Homo sapiens: one gene and its partner. The gene in region 1 interacts genetically with each later gene. Each region holds a gene or a part of one and is shown in the gene's direction. Other genes may lie near its edges. The genes, in order: LONP1 and PITRM1.

Region 1 (2,728 bases):
GGGGACCCGTCGTCGGCACTGCTGGAGCTGCTGGACCCAGAGCAGAATGCCAACTTCCTGGACCACTACCTGGACGTGCCCGTGGACTTGTCCAAGGTGGGGGGCCTGTCTGGGGCCTGGGCTTGCTGGGGAGGGTAAGCGGCCAGTCCCCCAGCACCTTGCCGCCGCCCCCAGGTGCTGTTCATCTGCACGGCCAACGTCACGGACACCATCCCCGAGCCGCTGCGAGACCGTATGGAGATGATCAACGTGTCGGGCTACGTGGCCCAGGAGAAGCTGGCCATTGCGGAGGTAAGCCCAGCCCCTCCCCACTGCTGTCCCCTTCCCAGAGCAGGGGGCGCCCCCCAGAGCCTGCAGAGGCCGTGCCTCTGGGAGCTCCTGGGCCCGGGAGAGACAGGTGGGACCTGCGGCCGAGGAGCAGATGGGGCCGTGAGAGACACACCAGACGCTTGCGAGCAGCTGCAGGTGGCGCGAGTGGGCGCAGGGTTTAGGGCCTGGGACTGTCCAAAACACCGCCCACCACCGTCAGGCCACACACTCTGTCTCCCGGGGCCTCCAGGCTGCCCCATGGTGGGGCCCCCACCTGGCCCAGAGTGTAGGGAAGGTTTCTGGCAGCCGGAAGCAGTGGGGCCTGTGGCTCCCACCCAGAATGAGGCTTGGAGGAGAAGTGGTTTCAGTGAGGAGCATGCAGGGGCCCATATTTCTCATGTGTTTTTTTTTCTGCAAAGGTGCTGAGTGCATTTCTCCCCTAGGAGCCCTTTGACAGCCAGTGGTGGGCACTGGTCCCTGCCCTTGAGGCCCTCCCAGCATCCTCGTGTCCCCTGGGGGCTTCAATGCCCACTGCTGGGCCCAGTTCCCAGCCTGACTTCTCCAAGGGACGGGCCTGTAGTTCCTGGGGACAGGACTGGGGGGCATGGGGACCCCTCAGGGCATCAGGAGTGCCCCCCAGTATCAGTGGCAGATGTAGAGTGGCTTGCATGGCTCTGTCCGTCTCACAGATGCCCTCCCCCATGCCATTAGAGCTCAGAACTGTGGCAAGAATTGTGTGGGGCTGTGGGTGACCCTGGAGCCCCTGACCCAGTCCCCTTCCTCATGTGCTGAGGGCAGCAGCCACGTAACCAGTCAGCCACCCTACAGGCCCTGGGTCTGTGTATGGGGCCAGCCCATGGGGCAACCAGGAGGCCTTCCTGGAGGAAGCGGCATCTAAGATACCATTGGGGGATAGGAAGTGGATCCAAGCAGAGGACGCAGCACAAGCAAAGGCCTGGGGCCTCTGGGCATGGTGGGTGGCAGGGCGGGGTGTCCAGGCCCTGGTTTCACCATCAGGGACCTCGTTCCCAGGCCAGGGTCTGGGGGCCATGGGAGAGGCATTGGCTCCCAGGTTCTAGACTGAGCTGGTGGGCAAGGTCCCTCCAGACCCAACCCTGACGGTTGCCCTTGCAGCGCTACCTGGTGCCCCAGGCTCGCGCCCTGTGTGGCTTGGATGAGAGCAAGGCCAAGCTGTCATCGGACGTGCTGACGCTGCTCATCAAGCAGTACTGCCGCGAGAGCGGTGTCCGCAACCTGCAGAAGCAAGTGGAGAAGGTGAGCGGCCAGCCCGCCCTCCTGGCACCTGCCGCCCACCTCACCATCCCACGCTGATCACCCCACCTTTCCATGCCCATCATCCCACTTTCCTGCGCCCATCACCCCACCACCCCGCGCCCGTCACACCTTTCTGTGCCCGTCACCCCACCACCCCGCACCTGTCACCCCACCTTCCCGTGCCCATTGTGTTGCCCTGACCGCCCAGGTGTTACGGAAATCGGCCTACAAGATTGTCAGCGGCGAGGCCGAGTCCGTGGAGGTGACGCCCGAGAACCTGCAGGACTTCGTGGGGAAGCCCGTGTTCACCGTGGAGCGCATGTATGACGTGACACCGCCCGGCGTGGTCATGGGGCTGGCCTGGACCGCAATGGGTGAGCGTGGTGGCGGGAGAAGACCCCAAAGCCATTCCCATTTCTACCCGAGAACAAGCAGGTCCCACCTTGTACACCTGTGCAGTGGGCCTCAGGTGGCTCTGAACGGCCTCTGGCGGGGGGTGGTGTGCTGGGAGCCCAGGGGGTCTGGGCTGAGGGAGGGGAAGGCTGTGACACATGGGGGTGGCAGCACACCATGGGCCTTATGGATTTGGGTGCCACTTTGATAGGCTTACAGGTAAGGACAAGCTCATCCAGATGGGCCTTGGGGCCACCACGCACAAAGGAGGCGAGAGGGCAAAGGGGATGGTGCGGGAGGGGCTGGAGAAGGGCTTGTGTCTGTCTGCAGGGCAGCGGCAGCTGGGCCTTGTAGCCCTGGGCGTGTCCTCTGTGGCTGGCAGCTGCTGGGGGCTGCCCTGTGGGGCGTACAGAGCCAGGAACCCGCAACGCAGCAAACGTAGAGGCCAGCGTTGGCTCACGATGGGACACCAACCCCTGCCCAGGGGCACCAAGATGCTAAACTGGGGCAGGAGCGGTCAGAGTGGCCCCGAGGGGTGGAGTGAGCACCGGCCTGGGCTCCGAGGCCTCCCGTGTTCACAGCTCCACACCTGTTTCAGGAGGCTCCACGCTGTTTGTGGAGACATCCCTGAGACGGCCACAGGACAAGGATGCCAAGGGTGACAAGGATGGCAGCCTGGAGGTGACAGGCCAGCTGGGGGAGGTGATGAAGGAGAGCGCCCGCATAGCCTACACCTTCGCCAGAGCCTTCC
Region 2 (3,822 bases), on another chromosome or scaffold:
TTCTCCTTCCCTAGCGTGCAGTTCCGTACTACTCCCATGGACAGTACTGGTGTTCCTCACATTCTTGAGCATACCGTCCTTTGTGGGTCTCAGAAATATCCGTGCAGAGACCCTTTCTTCAAAATGTTGAACCGGTCCCTCTCCACGTTCATGAACGCCTTCACAGGTAAGACCAGCATCCTGAACAGAAACTGCTTTTGGGTTTGCCAGGCACACCCACTGGAATTCAGTTAGTTTCTGAGAAGGAATGAGGGGAGTGGGCAATTCATGTTCTAGAAAAATTTTTACCTCTCTCTAGTTGAAGGACATTAGAAATTTAATCCTTCAGGAAAGCCACATGGTAGCGAGATTGTAAAAACTAGCGTTTTAAGAAAACATATGTGAACTTTTCCCAGAAAAGTTCAAAACAATTTTCTCTTGGAGATATCGCTACAATGCCAGAGTTACTACTAATGTTGATGTTTGACTTTTAGTAAGACTGACGATAGTGGATAGGGTGACGATGAACAGTGCATTCTGTGGGGGAGTGACATTGAAGAGCGGGTTAAATCCATGCTGTTACAGAATGAGGTCATCTTTGTAGATGTATGAAAGTCTCTGGAGAAACTTGAGAGAGTTTAGATATTCGCTGAAGAAAGCCCTGGTGCCCGTCGAGTGCAGATCCTGAGACGGGATGGGAAAGCCGGCACTTGGGGTTATGAGCTGGGACAGCTGCTGAGGCCAGGGACCAGAGCATGGGGCCACTGCCCCATCCCAAGAATAGCTACAGCTTACTGTCCTAGGACAAAGGGGGAATGAGTCTTGAGAGTCAATAATTTTAGTAGAAATCTGTTATATTTTACAATTTCACTTTTCATTTGTACCCAGCTAGTGATTATACTCTGTATCCATTTTCCACACAAAATCCCAAGGACTTTCAGAATCTCCTCTCGGTGTATTTGGATGCCACCTTTTTCCCATGTTTACGCGAGCTGGATTTCTGGTATGTCATGAATGATTAACTAGTTGATACAGACTTTAGTATTTGAGTCACTATCAGCTTATAATGATTTGTCCTCAGGCAGGAAGGATGGCGGCTGGAACATGAGAATCCGAGCGACCCCCAGACGCCCTTGGTCTTTAAAGGAGTCGTCTTTAATGAGATGAAGGGAGCGTTTGTAAGTTTTCTTCCTTTTTTATGTTGTGTTCAGCTTACCTTTCCCATGTACAATATCATGATATAGACACATCTGGAAGATTTTATTTAATATTCTCATTATAGGTGATACATTCTTGAATTAGCTGGGGTCAGTGCTGTGAGCAGAAGTCGGGGTAGCAGGGCCAGGCTGCTGTTCTTCCCAGCAGGTCTCAGACCATGTCTGGGGACCCCTGGTATGTGATCTGCAGCAAGTCTGTGAGATAAAAGCTATTTTCATACCACTACCAAGACAGTGTCTTTTCATTCATTCTTGCCCAAGTACACGGTGTACTTTCTAGAGGCTGCATGGCAAGGTGTGTGACACACAGCGAGCTGCATACAGAGCAAATGGGGGAGTCCAGCTTCACCTCTGAGCCAGACGCTACAGAGATTTGCAAAAAAGGCAACACAGCACCACTCTAATCAGTTTTTTACTTTGTTATGAGAAGTATTTTTCAAAAATATTTATATCAACATGTAATGATGGCTTACCTTAATGAATAAGTATTTTTTAAATGTCTCAGCTTTAATTTAGAATATAGAAAAATTATATAAACACACACAGGCACCTACACAGGCAAAAACGCCCACATAATCAAAAGCTGTTTGGGTCCTCATTAAAACGCATTTATGCCTAGTGTTCCATTATTGGCACCCTAAGCTTGTGGGAGTTATTTATGTCCTACAGCTCAAGGTCATCGCCAAGGTCTGATTTTTTACAAAAAAATTGCAACCTCAGGCATAAATGGGTTAATTTTTCAGAGTGTAAAGGATTCTTGAGACCATTTTGGATTAAGAGCTGCTGTCCTGGGCCCATGTCTTCATGTCCCTTTGTGACTTGGACAACCTGTCTGTCCTGGTGTCCCTGAGGCTCATGGGTGGCCTGCTCTCTGATTCCCGTAGCTCCTCTCGGCTGGTGAACTATTTCTTACCTTTTCATTCTCAATTTGGTGGTCTTTTCTTCCAAGGAGTCTTCTTGAACTCAAGTTGGGGTGACAGCTTCTCCCCACTTCCCTCACGGCTGGTGGGCAGACCGACTGATCCATCCCGATTTACAGCCCTCAGCTATGCGTTTGTTGCACCACACATCAAAAAATCCATTGTTCTTCTCAATCCTTGGGTCCTGTGCGTGGGTGATGAATGATTGAATACCGTGTTAAACAATGCCTGCGTGGGTGTTTTTTTTTTTTTTTTAAACCATTAGAACAGCTTTATTTGCAAAGTATTACAGGTGTATGCACCAGAATGTGATCAATTGGCTATATTGTAAGTAATGTAACGTGTGTATTATTTTACATGTATACTTATGATTTATTTATTTTACGTTTCAAGACAGACAATGAGAGGATATTCTCCCAGCACCTTCAGAACAGACTTCTTCCTGACCACACGTACTCAGTGGTCTCCGGGGGTGACCCACTGTGCATCCCGGAGCTTACATGGGAGCAGCTTAAGCAGTTTCATGCCACTCACTATCACCCAAGCAATGCTAGGTAATATTTTGTTGGAAAAGTTTGATGGTGGATTGTGAAAAGTTGACTTGTTTGTGTTCTTAACAGTTTATGGCATGGCTTCTCTCACATTTAGCAATGCTTAAGAAATATCTAAGTCTAGGTAAGATTCTTGGCCTAAGTTTGCCTATCTTACTTGGACATTGATTTTGGACATTTACAATGATAGCCCTCAGGAGGCTCAGCATGGTGGTTACAAACACAGCGTTTAGAGTCCCCCAGAGGAGGGTCCTGGCCCCGCAGCCTGTTGCCTCACATCTAGCTTGGTTGCGTGGAAAGTGGGGGTGCATGGATGGTGCCCACCTTGACACGGGGTGTGAAGCTTGAAGCCCTCTCCTTGGCACGGAGAAGTGCTCTTCCAATAGTGGATGCAGTTACTGAACCTTAATTACATCCTCACTTTCTGATACATTGCTTGTTCTTATGTCACTAATACAAGGTCATTATAATAATAATATAGTCATATATCTTATATAAAACACTAATTGTATTTACATATGAATGCTAATGTAAAAACATATTTGCAAGATTATTTTATGTAAAAATAATTATGAAAACTTGAAGCATACAGAAAAGTAGAGATACTAGAATAATGAGCCCCTAAACACTTATCATGTAATAGATATCCTTTCCCTTGCTGAAGTTTTTGGAAGTAAATTATAGACGTCATGATCATTTGCCCGTAAATGTTTGAATTTGTGACCCTAAAACGTGAGGATTTTTTCTTACATGAGCTAATGCCATTTTCAGTTTTAATAGAATAAAACATACTTTCTTAAAACTGCCTATTTCTTATTCCATATTCAGATTTTCTAGTTGGCCCCAAAGTGTTTGTTGCACGGGGTCCCACAGGTCACACCTGGTCGGCCCGGGTTTCTCCTGGGCACCCTCTAGGGGACGGCAGAGGAGTGTGCAGGCCCAGTTTCTTTCTGGCGCACTCACTTTCCAGGTGGCCTGGCTGTTCCCGCCTGGTGTTGGGTGCCATGTTCCTGTGTTTCCTGAGCACTGGAACTTAGATCCAAAGACTTAGTTTGAGTCAGGCTGTGCCTTTGTAAGCAGAGTCCCTCATGGGGAGCTCTCCATAGACGGCCACATCCTACCATCATGTGAGGTCTGCTCGCCTCCACTGGGGAT

Evidence for each region.
Region 2: changes in LONP1 (region 1) and PITRM1 together harm fitness more than expected from each alone (negative genetic interaction), as found in Homo sapiens cells (one large-scale study listed by BioGRID).

What each region holds. Positions count from the first base shown.
Region 1 is NC_000019.10:5,693,617-5,696,344, reverse strand, and holds part of LONP1 (lon protease homolog, mitochondrial isoform 1 precursor), read left to right. Parts: coding exon 1-96; intron 97-174; coding exon 175-291; intron 292-1,443; coding exon 1,444-1,584; intron 1,585-1,792; coding exon 1,793-1,958; intron 1,959-2,575; coding exon 2,576-2,728. UniProt on the Homo sapiens protein: ATP-dependent serine protease that mediates the selective degradation of misfolded, unassembled or oxidatively damaged polypeptides as well as certain short-lived regulatory proteins in the mitochondrial matrix.
Region 2 is NC_000010.11:3,162,573-3,166,394, reverse strand, and holds part of PITRM1 (presequence protease, mitochondrial isoform 2 precursor), read left to right. Parts: intron 1-14; coding exon 15-166; intron 167-867; coding exon 868-982; intron 983-1,060; coding exon 1,061-1,157; intron 1,158-2,509; coding exon 2,510-2,670; intron 2,671-3,822. UniProt on the Homo sapiens protein: Metalloendopeptidase of the mitochondrial matrix that functions in peptide cleavage and degradation rather than in protein processing. Has an ATP-independent activity. Specifically cleaves peptides in the range of 5 to 65 residues.